4 separate regions of the Homo sapiens genome follow, and regions 1, 2 and 3 are each linked to region 4. The links come from fine-mapping of genetic effects on gene expression. A gene starts in region 4. Each other region holds a variant in brackets. All regions are shown on one strand. Distances are between the middles of the regions.

Region 1 (4,051 bases), 170 kb before region 4:
CACAGACATAGAGATGATTCCCATGAATAAGTTTGTTCTGCTCACAGATCCCTAGAAACAGGAAACACAGCCTGCCATGCAGGGCCACATGAGGAAGCACCAAGGCTGGTCAGGGGGCAGACAGAGCAGAGGAAATCCTGGGCAAAAGCTTTTATTGTGGTTTCTGCAGGGAGGAACAGGGAGGCAGGGTGCATGGGCTTAGGAATGGGGCCAGGCTGAATAATTTCAGAGCTCTGGGCCATAGGGGCTGTCCCTGGTTAATGGCCCTGGGGGCTCAGGGCAGGCAAATACTGGCCCTGAGTGTGAGGTCCTGATAAGGGAGTTGGTTGGAGGCGTGGATTTGGGATTAGCTGGTTTGTATGTGAAAGGTGTGTTAGTAGTGTAATTGTTTGCCATCTCCACAGATTAGCTAGTCCTGGGGTGGAGTGGGGAACAGTCCCTCTAGGGTCAGCAAAGCCCCAACATGTCAAAACATCAAAAATGCAGAATGGAGAGATGTGGGTACTACAAGACAATTATTCCTCTGTCTGCCCTGCACTTTTCTCCTCTTAGGCTTTCCTCTCCTCTGTGTTATGATAGGGGTAGCAGACACCATCTTCTCACATCGCCTCCATGGTTTAGTGATTAACTGAGGGGTGGGCTTCTGATCCCAGGTGGCAAAGGTCCATTTCTAGAATTTTTTTTTTTTTGAGTCGGAGTCTCGCTCTGTCGCCCAGGCTGGGGTGCAGTGGCGCGATCTCCACTCACTGCAAGCTCTGCTTCCTGGGTTCACGCCATTCTCCTGCCTCAGCCTCCTGAGTAGCTGGGACTACAGGTGCCCGCCACCATGCCAGGCTATTTTTTTGTGTGTGTGTTTTTAGTAGAGACGGGGTTTCACCATCTTAGCCAGGATGATCTCGATCTCCTGACCTCGTGATCTGCCTGCCTCGGCCTCCCAAAGTGCTGGGATTACAGGCATGAGCCACCGTGCCCGGCCCATTTCTAGAATTTTTAGAGTGGAACTGGGATGGGTTACAATATAGAGAGAAGCACAAAGGAGAGGGAGAGAGGGGAGCCTGGGACATCTGAATCCTGGATCCAGTCATCCCTGAAGCTAACTCTATGTCTGTCCTTGATAGCAAGAGTCATTAACTTGCTCTTTTGCCTAAACTAATTTGAATTGGATTTTCTTCATTTGCATTTTATCTTTATGGAAGAGAAAATATATGCATGTGTTAATTTATTCTTGGAAAGTTCCACGGTGGCTTCTGAAGAGATGCTGAAACACCTAAGTAGCTTCTCTCATACAAGGTGGCATTTCAAAAATTTCCTAAATAACTCACAGGTGCCCGGGTAAAAATTAAAAGGGACTGCACTGTCACGGCAAAATAAAAATTAGTAGATTCAGTTGTGTTTAATCATCTCTGTTTTAAGAACCTGCATTGACCTTACTGAAGGGGTAAATCGAGTACTAATACATCGCAAGACGTGTGAGGGAGTGCTGGTGGGAACCCCCGTTTGCTAAGGCCCTTGGCAATCAGAAATAGGTTTCAGGAAAGTGATATTGCAGGCAATTAGGCAAGTCATTCTCCAGCATCTCTGAGAAAGAGATAGCGTCCCCCTACCCACCTCTCCGAGACAGGGATGTTAACGGCAGCTCCTCTCTACTGTCTGCTGCTGGTGCTTGGAAATGAGACGTGTGTGGGAACTACAAGTGGAATACCAGGAATCTCACTGCACTCGCTTGGATGAGGAAGACAGCCTGGCTCCACTCTCAGAGACACCAGCCCAGGCTGCCATTTAATGGTCCTTTCATTAAATCATCTTTTCCAGCGCTGGCAAGCCCATCCATGACTCTGTGTTTCTCCCTTGCCTATCCTCACCTTCCTTCTAACCTCCCTCTTTTGTATGCAACTTGAAATGTTCAAGATTTAAAAATAAAAATACATCGTAGGCACTCTTGGCCTATGCACCGCTTTTTACAAAGGAAATCAAGCTTTAAATA[A/T]AAGGCAGGAAACTGCTCAGCAACCCCGGCCCCTTTGAAAAGAACGGTTTCTCTGTGCTATTAAGCTGGGGGCACCTCTGCTGGTGGGGCTTGAGTGGCAGCGGGTACAGCATACAGCTACTCAACGTAACCACAGTCACACCCACTCACATTGTCTCCTCAGCCCTGTCTTTTGGAGTTTGGGCAGATGTCCCAGTAGATATTTTTACTTCTGTGACGCTAATAACAAATGACTTTAAAAGCACAATGCGGGAATCCTTCTCTAAATATTTCTGGACTAAAAAAGTATAATTGGCATTGCCAAAGCAAAGCCTCGCTGGCCCTTTTCCTGGTTTTGAATGCGTGACCTCTGCCTGTGGTTCTTTTTCTAACACCTGAACATCCCTCCTCCGTGGAATACAGGTGTGGCATTGTTCCTGTTGCCCTCTGCAACCTGCTTCCTGGAACCCTCAGCGGGAGAGGACAAATACTTAGATAATCACCACACAAATGAAGATCTCCTTTCATTTCCATGTGCGTCCAATTTGGGAACAAAACTCGACACTCAGCTGCAGTCGTCCTTGTTATTAATTATTCATCCATTCATCTATTCAGCTACGTGTTCCATAAACATTTATTAAGTGCCAATTATGTATGAATAAGGCATTGTCTCTGCCCCCTTGTCTGTGTCCTCCTGAAACTCCTGTTCTAATTACGGAGACCTGGCTTGTGCATGAACAGCGAGGTTACAGTATGGGGAGTTTTGTCCCTGTCACCTCCCGCCTTTTGGAGGTTGTTGAGAACACCGCCTGCAAGGGGAGCCTCAGGGGTGCTTCCCGGGGCCAGGTGCAACAGCTCCCACCTCGCAGCACTTTGCGTCTCCTCCACATCTTTTTGGCATTATGGGTCCTTTTACTCTCCTCCTTCCCTCGTGAGGAAACAGGCTAATGGGGACTAAGTGACTTGTGCAAGATGACAGAGTGCGGATTAGAAACCAGGCAGCCTGACTCCTGAGTCTATGACCATCTTGTGGCAGTGTCCCCTCCTTGTAAAAGCAAATAACCACCAACAACAAAACCCTCTCTTGGCTTGGCAACGGTGACACCACCTTCTCCCGGTGTTTTCTTCACCGACTCCTCCCCTTCATTCACACAGCCCTGAAGGGTGCATCCGTGCTCCTCAAAAACCTCATTGGCCCTTGAGTCTTCTACACGCCCTGCCCAGGGGAACGTCTGCAACACATGCATATACAAGGGAGTATGGGAGTGCAGTGGAAAGATGGGGCTATTCTTGTTTAACTCTTTTAATCTGCAGAATGTATAAAGGGAATCATTATGTTTTACAGAATTTTCAGGAAGCATAAAGCATAATCTGCACTAACGCCTTTCATCCCAACACTTTGGGAGGCTGAGGCGGGTGGACTGCTTGAGCTCATGAGTTCGAGACCAGCCTGGGCAACATGGAAAAGTCCTGTCTCTACAAAAACTACAAAAATCAGCCGGGTGTGGTGGTACATGCCTGTAGTCTCAGCTACTCGGGAAGCTGAGGTGGGAGGATGGCTTGTGCCCGGGAGGCAGAGGTTGCAGTGAGCCGAGATGGCGCTACTGCACTCCAGCCTGGGCGACAGAGCCACAACTTGTCTCAAATATGTATATTTGCTGTCAAATATATATATATGTATATAAAATATATAATAAATATATAAAATATATATTTCTATATATAATATTTATATTATATATAAAATATATAATATATATAGCCTTTAGTGTGGAATATATATAATATATAAAATATATATTTAAATATAAATATAAATTTTTATATAAATAAAAATGTATATATATATATTTTATATCTATATCTATATATATTCCACACTAAGGGCTCTAGGCATTGTATGAACAAGGTGGTCCAGCATTATCACACACTGGACATGCCCATATTCAATGGAAAAAAAAATTTATTTTCCAACTGCCAGAATAAGTGGATGTCCTGTCAAGGGAGAAGGCTCTTTGGTCTGAGTCAGGACAGAAGACTCAGCTGGGACGCATCCCGCCTGCCAGGGAGATGCCCACATCTGCATGT
Region 2 (4,051 bases), 98 kb after region 4:
CCCTGATCTAAGTCACAGCTGGTTGGGGTCTTAAGTCCTTAAGCAGTTTAACTTGGGGTCAGGCATAAAATGGGGGGGGTGGGTAGAAATAGAAAATATACAAACAACAGGAATATAAAATGTGGGACACCTTCTGTGGCCTGGACATCCCTGCTGCCTCGAGCTCCCCGCAGCTGCTGATGTTCGCTAGCGCCTCTCGTCACCCCAGTACCACGCTCTGACCTTCTGTTCCTGCTGCACCTGTTCCCCACCCCAGCATCTTTGCCCGAGGGAAGGCTTCGTCCAATCCCGTTCCCGCCCTGGATGACCACGCCAGCTGTGGGCCTGCCTGGCCGAACGCAGGTCTCCATCAGAGGGGCCCGTCTGCATGGGGGTGCCTGCACACCTGTCGTGTCGACATCACTGAGGACCCCTTGGGGGCTCAGGCCAGCTTGAGGGCCTCTTTGTCTCCTAAATAACTGGGACAGTATCTGGGGCTTAGATGAGCAGTCAGCATAGCAATAAGTGACCGGAAATACAGAGATGTGTGGACTAAGACTGTTGAGGTTGACTCGGATGTGTGCAAAGGCCCCAAAGTGACCTCCCTCCACGGTTGAGCCGTTGCCTGAAACCCGACTATGAGAATGCAGTTCTGTATTTTAAGGCAGATGAGACAAATGCCCCCAAGAATGGCAATGCAGTGAGCTCTGTGACTCACCTCACCTCCTGGTGATTGAGCCTTTCTGATCCTCCTGAGTTTAAGGATCCTTGGGTGGATGGGTGGGCGGGGCACAGCTGAGGTCAGAGCTCTCAAAGGCCAATACTACGGACTTGCCTTTTTTGTTGTTGTTTTATTTGGAGGGGGGTGTTTGTTTTATCATGGTAAAATAAACATAGCATAAAAATTACCATTTTAACTACTTTTAATTGTACCATTCAGTGGCATTAAGTAATTCACATTTTTACACAGCCATCACCACCCTTCATCTCTAGAGGTCTTTTCATCTTCCCAAACAAACTCTGTCCCCAATAAACACTCCCCATTCCCATCCCTTAGTCCCGAGCAGCCACCCTTCTACTTTCTGTTTCTATGAATTTGCCTACCTAAGAACCTATTTAAGTGGATCATGCAATATTTGTCCTTTTGTGACTGGCTTACTTCACTTAGCATAATGTCTTCAGGATTCCCTCAGAACAAGGACCTCTAAGGACAAAAATAAGTGAAAATAAGAAAAAAAGAAAAAATGCTTCCTTTATACTATAGCATATGTTGGATATGGCCTCCCTTTTTAAGGCTGAGTTATATTTCATCCTCTGGATGGATCACATTTTCTTATCCATTCATCTGTTGATGGACACCTGCGTTGCTCCCACCTTTTGGCTGTTGTGAATATGCTGCCGTGAACATAGGTGTGCAAATATCATTTCAGGTCCTTGCTTTCACTTTTGGGGGGTTATACCCAAAAGTGGCATTGCTGAGTCAGATGGTAATCCTCTGTTTAATTCTATGAAGAACAGGGATATTGTTTTCTCCAGTTGGCTGCACCGTTGTACATTCCCACCAGGAATGTACTGGTGCACCAGGGTTCCAGTTTCCCCACATTCTTGTCAGCACTTGTTATTTCCTGTTTGTTTGACAGCAGCTACCATCCTGATGGATGTGAAGGGCTACCACATTGTCGCTGTGATGTACATTTCCCCGATGACAGTGACGTTGAGCATCTTTCCATGTGCTTCTTGGCCATCTGTATGTCCTCTTCAGTTTTTGTTTTGTTTTAAACTTGCACTCAGATGGATAGTTATATGTGTGACCTAAGGAGAACCACTCAGTGATGAAGAATAAACGTGGCAACACCAGCTAGCATAGCTTAGCAGCATCTGTTATCTGCCTGAGGGCGGTGAATTCCCAGTGAGATGCTCATTCTAGTACTGTCCTAGAATGAAATGAGTCTCAGCTGGCATGTTCCTCGCTCTCCTTCTCGGTGCCCATCTTTTTCTTAGTTGAAATGATCTGTGATTCTGGATGCAGCCCGTGTTGTTCTGGGACGTCTCTGTATTGCACTAAATTAATAAAGGAGCTTTCATTTTTGCAGTTATGTATTTTGAATTCCCTATTCTCTCTTCATCCTGAATGACTGAGACTTGATTAGACATCGGCACAGCGCACCTGACATGGCGCTGACATGGAAATGCAATGGGTGGCAGCTCGGGGTGCAGACCCCACCCAGGATGCTGTGCCCGAGGGGAGCCAGGGCTTCCCTTTGAAATGGCAAAGGTTCCCACCATCCCTCCAGCCCCCGATGGCAGATCCCTTCTCACTTCTTCCTCACTGGAGCTGTGACTCCTTCCGGTGTTTTCCTTGGGTTGATGAAACAGAAACTCTCCTGGGGCCTTTTTTATTTTATTTTTTAATTTTATTTGTGGTAAGAACATCTAACATGAGACCCACCCTCTTAA[C/A]AGGTTTTTTCAGTGTACAGCACAGTATCGTGAACTATAGACACAATGTGTGCAGCAGAGTTCCAGAGCTTATTCATCTCGCCTGCCTGAAAGCTGATGCTAGTTGACGAGCAACTCCCCATGTCTCCCTCCCTCTACCCCCGGCAACCATCAGCCCACTCTTTGATTTTCTGAATTTGCCTATTTTTACATGCCTCATGTAAGTGGAATCATGTAGTATTTGTCCTTCTGTGACTGGCTTATTTCACTTAACATAATTCCTCCAAGTTCATCCACGTGTCGTACGTGTCAGAATTTCATTCGTTCTTAAGCGGAATCATATTCTATTGTATTTTTCACTGTGTTTCGTGTGTCCCTTCACCTATCAGTGGACCTCTGCGTTGTTTCCATATCTTGGCTGTTGTGGATAACACTGCAGTGAACGTGGGAGCGCTCACGTCAAGTGCTTTGAGATCCTAATTTCAATTCTTTTGGATAAGTACCTGGAAGTAGAATCACTGGATCATATGGCAGTTCTAGTTTTAGTTTTTTGAGGAACTGCCATACTGTTTTCCATAATGGCTGCACCATTTTTGCATCCCTACCAACAGTGTTTAAAGGTTCCAATTTCTCTCCATCCTGGGGACTTTGATACTGAGAACCTAACCTGTCTAGCCTCTTCTGCACTGGCCGCCTTTGCAAGAGCTGGTTGCCTCTCTGAAAACTCTCCTCCCAGGCCTCTTCCCTTCCCCTCACCCACATGGCAGGACAGTCCTACTTCCTTTTCCCTTAAGGGAAGATTCAAATGCTGCTTCTTTGGTGAAGTCTTCCCCAGGCCTCGTCCCTTTCTTTGCATTCCTGTAGCACAGAACCCCATCTGTGTCTTATAGGCACGTGTCTCTTCATCAGACTGTGAGCCCCTTGAGGCCGGTGGTGTGGCTTCATCTCGGCATCTCCCCTGGCATGGTGCTACCTCATCCTCCTTGCTGAATAAGTGAATGAAATGCATTCATTATACACAGCCGCCTTCTGTTTTCCATTATTTGTCATTATTCAGTGTGTTCTGTGAACCAGGAGCTGGGCATGGCTTGTTGAATAAGAACACAGTCCCTAAACTAAGGAGCTTTTAGGCTGGTAACCAAAAAGGGAAATTCTAAATTTTTTTATGATAAGCTTTTAGATATCTTTTTGATATTTAGAATGAAGTAAACACAGTAGATGTAGTCCAATTTTGGAAATCATTTAAGACCTGAGCCTAATTGAGCAGGTAGAAAGCCAGGAAGAACACACCTACTTTGTATTTGCAGTCCTTTCCTCATGCTAATTGATAAGGCGATTAATCCTTACACTATTGCTGAGCCACAACCCCATTTAAAAATAAAAATTAGGAAAGCTGTCTGGATAATTATTAGCAAAGACTTTACAGAGGCTGGGATAAGTCCTCCAGCTGGTTGTTTGCACTGGGAGTTTTACAGTGTACTTGACCTTTGCTTAAGGTAAGGGAGTTTGTTTGGCAAAAACAATGATACATATTTCCATGGCATTGGAATCCTGCTGGATTTCTGAGACTCTGGGAATGCAGATGTGGGCACTGGAGTAAATGTGAGCATTTCATTACAGTGCCTGCCTTGTTTTG
Region 3 (4,051 bases), 100 kb after region 4:
GAGCGGGGCGGGAGGGCCCAGACCTAGCCCAGACTCATGAGAACGGTAACCTTGTTATGACCTTGGCCTTCACACAATAACTTCCCTCTGCCCAGCAACGTCCTGTTCTCTTATACACATGGTAAGAGGGAAAATATCTATCTATAAATACATTTATATTTCTAAGAGATCATCATGGAGATTTTTTTTCTCGACCCAGGGAGGGTTGCTTTGTTGCATAGAACAGGGTGTGACGAACCCACGAGCAGCATGCTTGTCTTCCTCCCGTCTTTTAAGTTCAAAGGCTTCTCACTGTACCTAATAAGTCGATGTCTTTACTGATATTATTTCTGATTTCCAGTTTGAAGATGAGAAAACTGGTGGTTATCAAGGCCTCTCTATTCATCCCATTTTATTTGAAGAGCTACTGGATAGTATTTGGAGGGAGACTTTTTTTTTTTTAGCTGGGGAGGGTGGCGGCCACAAAGACAGGGAGCTGTTTCCAAGCAGATAGAGGGTAGGAGCCCAAAGATAAGGATTTGAATACTGCCATGTGGAGAGGCGCTGGTTTTTTTTGTTTGTGTTTTTATAAACTCGGTAGTAGGAATATCTTTTATTGTTTTTCCTGTTGCCTGTTTAAAGGAAAGAGTGTAGCACAAATTGTCCAAATGCCTTGTGCTTTTAGGGGCAGAGTTAGATACTGTCACCCTCTGGCCCTCAGGTCCTGCTTTGTCTGTTCTGCGTGTTGTCTACCCATGAACTAATGAGGCTGCCTGCTTAATTGACCTGGAAAGACAAGTGTCAGTTGAAGAAGATGATGTTGAATTATGAGATTCAGAAACCCATTACATGGCTACTTGGCCCAGCATAGTACCTTCCCCATTTGTTAGACATTCACTATTTGATTAATTAGTAAGAAATTAGAGATGGTGTGGATCATTGAAATCTAGAGCAACCCCTCCAACACCTTGACTTCCCCCTAACACTCTTACTGGGACATCAACTAAAAACAGACTGTGTTTCAGTTCATCCATTGCTTTACCCACTAATAAATGGTTCACCCATCCTTTCTTGAGTGCCTGCTGGATGCTGGGTCTCTTGAGGATGGAAAGACATTGCCTTGCCTTTGAGGCACAGAGTCTCTGCTATATCGATGGATCTGACCACAGTACAGTGGTCACTACAATCGAGGAACTTATTAAATGCAGCAGGGACATGGAAAGAGAATCTGAATCTTCTTGAGATTTTCTTTTGTTTACCCAACCCACCTCATGTAAAGATGTAAAGGTACACAAGTCAAGAGAAGGAAAAGTCTGTGAGTGCCTTTAGTCACTTGCTCCTCCGTAAATGTGCACTTCCTGTTGAATTTACCTTTGAAGGGTCCTGAAAGGAGTGTCTTTGCCCATCCAATGCCCTGACTGCCTCTCCGTTGGGAGTGCACCATGCTATGTGTTTGTGTGAGCCTGTGTGTGTGTTTTGCTTAGAAGTTGCATGTGGCTCTTGTCTTGGCCATGCCAACTCTAAGGAGAAAACACATGTGATCACCATCGAAATTTCCACAATCCAATCAGGCCTGCCAAGGAGGTTTATGGGTCCAGATAAGTGGCTTAGCTACCTGTC[A/G]CATCAAAGGATTCAGTCAACCGACCCAAGGACCAGCATTTTTCCTTGTGCCTTCTTAGAGAAAGTAAAGCAGCCCACGCATAGGAGACCTGGAAAAGTTGGTAGTCTGGGATCTGTAAGGAGCCTCTGCATGAGGCTTCCTCGATGCTGTCATGCTCTGGGCCAGAACTGGGGTCCTGGGAAACACTGGTGGTAGAAGGGAGAGTCTGCCTCTACTAAGAAGGTGGGGGAATGGTGTGGCTTCCTGAGGAGGGAGCTCTTGGGAACAGCAGCCCTGGAAGCCAGAAATCACGTGAGTACATTTGGGTGGCAGTGCACAGGGCAGAAGAGCCACATCACAGCTTCGGTAATGGGACGAGGCGAGCACAGCCCTTTACCTGGAAAGGCAGTGGTTGACTGATCTAGTGATTTGGGAGCAAAAATTCCAGTAGCCCTAGTCTTGTGATTTGCAGCTGAACTGTTTTCCTAATAGTCTTATACATGTGATTTTGTAAAGCATAATGAACACCTCAATCAAGCAGGTGACATCGTGAATCCCAGCATGAGGGTCACGGCATTTCCCATTGAGTGGGATTCAGGCCTGAAGCCAAACCGCTCAAGCCAGATGTTGAGACACAGGAAGTTATTTTAACTAAAATGCTGTAGAAGAGGGCAAGATTGGCAGCTGGGAGAATCAGGCAGCACCTCTTCATTGGGGAGCTGGCTGTGGTATAGGAAATCTAACACAGACGGAGTTTCCCTTTTTTTGTTCAAATGCTGGAAAACCAGGTTTTGGTTTAAGCAGCCAGGTAAAGGCCCACAGTTATGTGCCTTTTATGGCCCTTTGCCATCTTGCCTTCAAAATCTCCAAGAATAACAGATTATTCCTGTGAGCAGGGAAGTAATAATACTTACATGTAATTTTAGATTAGGCGGAGCACTCACAGGTGAGACTTTGCATCTCTTGACACGGTCTGGTCGTTGCTGAAGAACAGGGTAAAAAGTCTTACTTAAAATTTCAGGCAAAAAATGAATATAATCACTGTAGTATTTTCATACATATTTTGACCCTGTTCCTCAGCAACAAAGTCCTGTTGGGACAAGCTGACCACTGGGGGTTCTGGTAGCAAGGTGCAGGTCACGGGGGCGACTGATCTTCTCCCGGGTGTTTGCAGGGCACGCGGCTTGTCCATGCGTATCCAGGGAGCGTCTCTAAACTGCTGTTGGCTCTGGGTTTGCACTATGTGCTTTTCCTTCACTCAGATTAATTAAAGAATTGTCATTTCTCTGCTTTTTGAACACCTGTAAGCGACACCATTTATCCTCAGACCTCCAGGAAGCTTGGCAGTTTTCATATGCTGTGAGAGTATGATTTAAGGACTCAAGTGAGTCCATTTTCCATGATTCAGGTGAGTCCCAGTAGCAGGTTTCTCATTTTCAGATGGAAAAACAAGAATGGCAGAGATCAGAGCCTTTTCTCCCTTTTGTTATGGCCGGGGCTTGGTGTGTGCTCACCTGCTCTCTTTCTCTCTGTCTGTGTATTTGTGTGTCTGCAAGTATGCCTATGTGTGTATGTGGCCGTGTATGTGAATGGGTCAATATGTGTCTGTGTGTGTCTGTGCATGCATGCCGGTGAGCTTCTGTGGCTGTGTCTGTGTGTGAGTGTGTCTGTGCATGTCTGTATGTGCTTGTGTTTGTGGCTGTGTGTGTGTGTGTCTGTGCATGTCTGTGTGTGCATGCTTGTAAGTGTCTATGGCTGTGTGTGTGTGTGTGTGTGCATGTCTGTGTGTGTATGTTTGTGAGTGTCTGTGTGTCTGTACATGTCCGTGTACGTGGTTTTCACTGTCAGAGCAGCAGGACAAGAGGCACTCTCACATCTCCTTCCACAACCTGCCCTGTTCCTCCCTTCCTTATCTGTGGTCCTGGTGGGCCTGGTTTTGCCATGGCCTCTGCCACCTCTCAGCACTCCAGCAGCCCTGCCTGGGGAGGGGAGGCCATGGAGTGCTTTCGCCTTGACGCCCATTTCAGAAACGGAGCAGCCTTACCAGTCGGGTGGTGGACAGTCATCCACCCAGAGCATCCCTCCCTGCTCTCCTGTTTGGTGTGGCCTAGATGGGAACTCCATCTGCCTCGAGGTGGTCCCCATGACTGCAGCAGCTCAGGCCTTGGCCCTGCTGCCCATCCTCCTGCTCACCTGGGGGTCATGTACATTTGATGAGAATGCATTAGAAACCTGGGTTTCCTGGCTCAGTCCTGAATGAAGTAGCAAGTCTCCTCGGGGACAGTTTTGATACCAAATAGCAGAAATATGGCTCCATAGGGCCCACCCTGTGGTACAGTGTGGCTGGGGGAGGAGATGGGTTACAGAATCTTTGAAGTGGCCAGTGACGTGTTCTTAGGCGAAAGCCAGGAAAGGTCGAGGGGAGAGAGGTTTCCAGAGCAGTGGGAGGGGTGGGCGGGAAGCCACAGAGAG
Region 4 (4,051 bases):
ATGTAATGGCAAGAGGAGCACTGGTAATAATACATGTCTAACATTCATTGCGCACTTACTCTGTTCCAGGCATGGAGGTCAGAACTTTGCATGTATTAGCTCTTCAAATGAGGGGAGGAGAGGGAAGGAAAAGAAAAGTTAAGCTAATAAATAATGTGAAGTTGAAAAATTACCACGTACACAACGTGCACTATCGTGTCCCCCCCCGCCCCAAGCCCCCAGCTCTTTATATATGTGGTTTCCAGACCCATTTCTCAGCGGTCTGGTGTCTTTTGCAGCCCTTAGGGCCCCTTCCGCCCATTGTTATCTAATCACCCCTTCTCGGCCACGCAGGAAGGTCCACAACCTCCCCTGTCCCCCAAGACCCGCCCCCCGGCAGCCTTCAGAAATAGTTCTCTGGTACGTATGTGCCAGCATTTTATGCAGTAAACACATGTTGCCCTTAACACTGAACTGCAGGTTAAAAATGTATTCCACTAAATTGTGCAGCGGTTAGCTGAGCAAATAATGAAAATGCAAAAGAATACATTCAGTATATGGAGCTTAGAATATATCCTTTTGGAAAGCTAAACATTTTTTTTTTTTTTGCCCCAAATAAGACTAGAAATGGATTGCTCCATTTAAGACTTCCATTAATAAACTTCTCAGAATATGAAATGCCTCCAAAATGTGGGGACGCTGGGTTGAAAGGTGCCGGATAATTCTCTTTGGTGCGTGCGCTGGGTGCAGGAGGAAATATGCTAATGTAGCCGTTTGCCGCAGGGCTGGTGTTATTTATACAGCGCTGGCTGGGCAAGGTTGGCGCTGGAGCAGGAGAGGAGGGAGAGGTTTGTCTTCTTGTGTGAGAGTATAGATGTGTGCGCCTGTGCACACGGCGTTCCAAACGTGAATACAAGATCTTAGGGAGGGGGTGGGGAATGCCATCACGTTTATACTGTGTGTATTATAACTTGTGTTGGAGATATATCCCAGCATCGTGCTTACATCGCATGCACTTAGGAGTGGGGGAAGAAATGGCGATTTGGGAGTGGGTGCGGCGGGTCGCAGGTGGCCAGACACTGCGGGGGACTGGCGACCTGAAATTGGCAAAGGCGCCTCCTTGACCCTGCTCCACGGACACAAAAATCAACCTTATTCGCTCCTGGAAAAAGCGCAGAGGGTTGTTCCCGAAGGCTGAAGACCCTCGGGCTTGGGACTGGGAGCGGGGCGCGGGCAGCGGGACCGCCGGGCACCTCTGAAGAGACAGAGGTCACGGAGACCTGGCGCGCGCGGAGTGGGTGGGGGGCCCGCGCGGCTGCGGGAGCCCAGCCTCAGAGAAGACCCGGCCCACACGTTCTCAGCGCACGCCGACTTTGCCGGGACCCGTCGCCGGCCGGCGACCCCTGCTACGCGCGTCTCCTCCTCCCCCGCCCCGCCCGGCGCGAAACGGGCAACGGGCAGGGGATCCTCCAGCCAGGCGGGCCCGGGGTGTCCCGTTTCCCCCGCCCCCCTCCCGTGGATCCCGGGCGGCGGCGGCCGCGCGTCCGGGCTGGAGGGGGCGCTCGCGAGCAGGAGCCGAGCGCAGCAGGTGCCGCGGTTACCTCCACCTCGGCGGGGGGAGAGGGGGCGGGCCGGGGGGCAGGGAGGAGGGGGAGGAGGAGGAGGAGGAGGAGGAGTGGGGCCGGCTCCAGGAGCTGGAGAGCGCGGCCGGCTCGGCAGGCTGGGTCCAGAGCTCGCGGCTTCCGGGAGGCGCCCGAAGTCGGAGAAATACAGCGCGGCCACCCCGGGAGCAGCAGCCTTTGCCCGCACCGCCGCCCGCAGGGCCCTGAACCGCCGGCAAGGGCGCGGGCCGGGCGCGGCGCCGGCTCCTCCTCCTGCCGCGTCCGGCGCGGAGCAGCGGAGAGCGGCGGGCTCGGCAGCCGGCGCCCGGGCCGCGGAACTGATGAGCCGCGGCGGCTGAGGGCCCGGCCGGCCTCTGCCCGCCTCTGCCCGGCGCCCGAGCGGGGCCGCAGCGCCCGGGGCGCGGGGTCCGGCGGGTGACATGGGGGCGGCCTGACGCACCCGGAGCCGCCGAGCGCTCTCTCTCGAGCCGCGGGCCCTCCTCGGCGGCAGCGGCTGCAGGCGCCTGGCCCGGCGCGCTGTGCCCGGGGCGCCCGCGGAGCCTCCGCCGCGCTCTATGCGCCTCTGCGGGAGCCGCGGGCCCGGGCCATGGCCATAGACCGGCGGCGCGAGGCGGCGGGCGGCGGGCCTGGGCGGCAGCCGGCCCCGGCCGAGGAGAACGGCTCCCTGCCGCCCGGGGACGCGGCGGCCTCGGCGCCCCTCGGGGGACGCGCGGGCCCCGGCGGCGGCGCGGAGATCCAGCCGCTGCCCCCACTGCATCCTGGAGGCGGCCCGCACCCGAGCTGCTGCTCCGCGGCTGCGGCCCCGAGCCTCTTGTTGCTGGACTATGACGGGTCGGTGCTGCCCTTCCTCGGGGGCCTGGGCGGGGGCTATCAGAAGACCCTCGTGCTGCTCACCTGGATCCCGGCGCTGTTCATCGGCTTCAGCCAGTTCTCGGACTCGTTCCTCCTGGACCAGCCCAACTTCTGGTGCCGCGGGGCCGGCAAAGGCACCGAGCTGGCAGGGGTCACCACCACAGGCCGGGGCGGGGACATGGGCAACTGGACCAGCCTCCCCACCACCCCCTTCGCCACTGCCCCCTGGGAGGCTGCGGGCAACCGGAGCAACAGCAGCGGCGCGGACGGAGGCGACACACCACCCCTGCCATCCCCTCCGGACAAGGGGGACAACGCCTCCAACTGTGACTGCCGCGCATGGGACTACGGCATCCGCGCCGGCCTCGTCCAGAACGTGGTCAGCAAGGTAAGGGCCGCAGCCGCCCAGTCCCTCCAACCCTCTCCCTGCAGACCGAGGTCCAAGCCCGAGCCAGCGGGAGAACCGAAGTCCCCAAAGTGGTGGTGCTAGAGTGTGTGTAGGGCATTCCGCATTGGCTTAATCTCCTTCCGTCCCCCAAACCACATGCCTTTACTTGGGTGTAAAGGGAGCACCATAGCCTTTACTAGTTTGCACCCAAACTCCTGTCCCAGTACGCGGATGGAAAGCGCGCCCTTCCCCCACCCTCGGGGCGAGGCAGCTGACCTGTCACCAGCCCCCTCTGGAGGAGTCGGACTGGCGTCGTTCAAGGTCTGCTGGGGGAGTCGGGACCACAGCCCTGTTCTGCCCGGCTAGTTGTCCCTGGGTCTCCCACAAAGCAATAGTCTTCCATCTCGCACTTGATTTTGACACAGGTAAAGCCTACTAAAGAACTGGAGAGCCAGAGAAGCAAAGACTCCTGCAAATCCCCAACCCGCAGCCGATGCTTAGTCCTCCCCAAAGATATCTGACTTTAGGCTTTGCTACCCCAGTGTCTCCTCCCATGTTTTCTCAGCACTTCAGTAAACATCACTACAGTATAGGAAGGACGCGGAGAATATGTCATTTGGGTGTTCCCCGGCCGTCACCGCTCTTACACAGCAGCTGCTTTGGGCTGAGGCACTGAGAACGGGGGTGTGCTTTAGCTGAAACATGCACCTTGTCCTCTGAGTCCTGTAGCTAAAGCTCCCTTGCAGAGGTATTGCGTGGTGTGAAATGTAGCAGAAGGGAGTTGTGAGACAAGTGTGAAGGCCTAAACACAGAGTGGGCAATGGTGGACACTCAATGCCCCTAGACAGCTGTAATTTTATTCTTAACATATAAGAGATATCAAGACATTTGTAGTTTTGCTCCTTGTGTCTAAACTAATTAATTCACATTTTAAAGTAAATACAGACTCTCCTCCACCCCACCCGCTACCCATTCTGGGCTGTTCTGGCAGAGTTTTAAATGCTTTGTCGAAATGTATGAAATTGGACAGTTTTAAATAGTCAATGTGCATGTAACCTCCTCCCCCCGTGTGCATTGGTTAACAGTTGTAGCTCATGGATGTGTAAGATAAACTCTTACATCATCATAATCATTGTTTTAATCTTGTACCAACCTGGCCAGAAATGCTCTGTCCTGTGGGAACTGTCTGACTGAGCTGCCCCTGCTGCCC

Direction of the effects. Alleles are on the strand shown, and positions count from the first base shown. SD is a standard deviation of normalised expression in the study named. Not every link is listed here.
As copies of T replace A in region 1, the expression in naive CD8 T cells of the gene that starts at base 1,697 in region 4 goes down (large effect, 0.81 SD a copy in Schmiedel 2018).

Evidence for each region. PIP is the estimated chance that this variant, and not a neighbour inherited with it, causes the effect.
Region 1: its variant is fine-mapped to the expression of SLC22A23 in naive CD8 T cells (Schmiedel 2018, PIP 0.95).
Region 2: its variant is fine-mapped to the expression of SLC22A23 in whole blood (INTERVAL, PIP above 0.99).
Region 3: its variant is fine-mapped to the expression of SLC22A23 in whole blood (INTERVAL, PIP above 0.99).

What each region holds. Positions count from the first base shown.
Region 1 is chr6:3,626,682-3,630,732 of GRCh38, reverse strand. The region is part of intron 3 of LOC100507336 (a long non-coding RNA gene); the gene reads left to right. Among named protein-coding and RNA genes, the nearest start is that of PXDC1, 120 kb to the left of the region's middle. The variant A/T (reference allele first, on the strand shown) is at 1,985.
Region 2 is chr6:3,357,087-3,361,137 of GRCh38, reverse strand. The region is part of intron 3 of SLC22A23 (solute carrier family 22 member 23); the gene reads left to right. Among named protein-coding and RNA genes, the nearest start is that of SLC22A23, 98 kb to the left of the region's middle. The variant C/A (reference allele first, on the strand shown) is at 2,437.
Region 3 is chr6:3,351,576-3,355,626 of GRCh38, reverse strand. All of the region lies in intron 3 of SLC22A23 (solute carrier family 22 member 23), which reads left to right. Among named protein-coding and RNA genes, the nearest start is that of PSMG4, 95 kb to the right of the region's middle. RefSeq lists an enhancer at 3,604-4,051. The variant A/G (reference allele first, on the strand shown) is at 1,600.
Region 4 is chr6:3,454,696-3,458,746 of GRCh38, reverse strand. SLC22A23 (solute carrier family 22 member 23) reads left to right here and starts at 1,697. Exons shown (of 10, transcript NM_015482.2): 1 at 1,697-2,841. The coding sequence starts at 2,188. LOC643327 (a long non-coding RNA gene) reads right to left here and starts at 3,044. Exons shown (of 2, transcript NR_147844.1): 1 at 2,496-3,044. RefSeq lists silencers at 1,420-1,639, 1,700-1,929.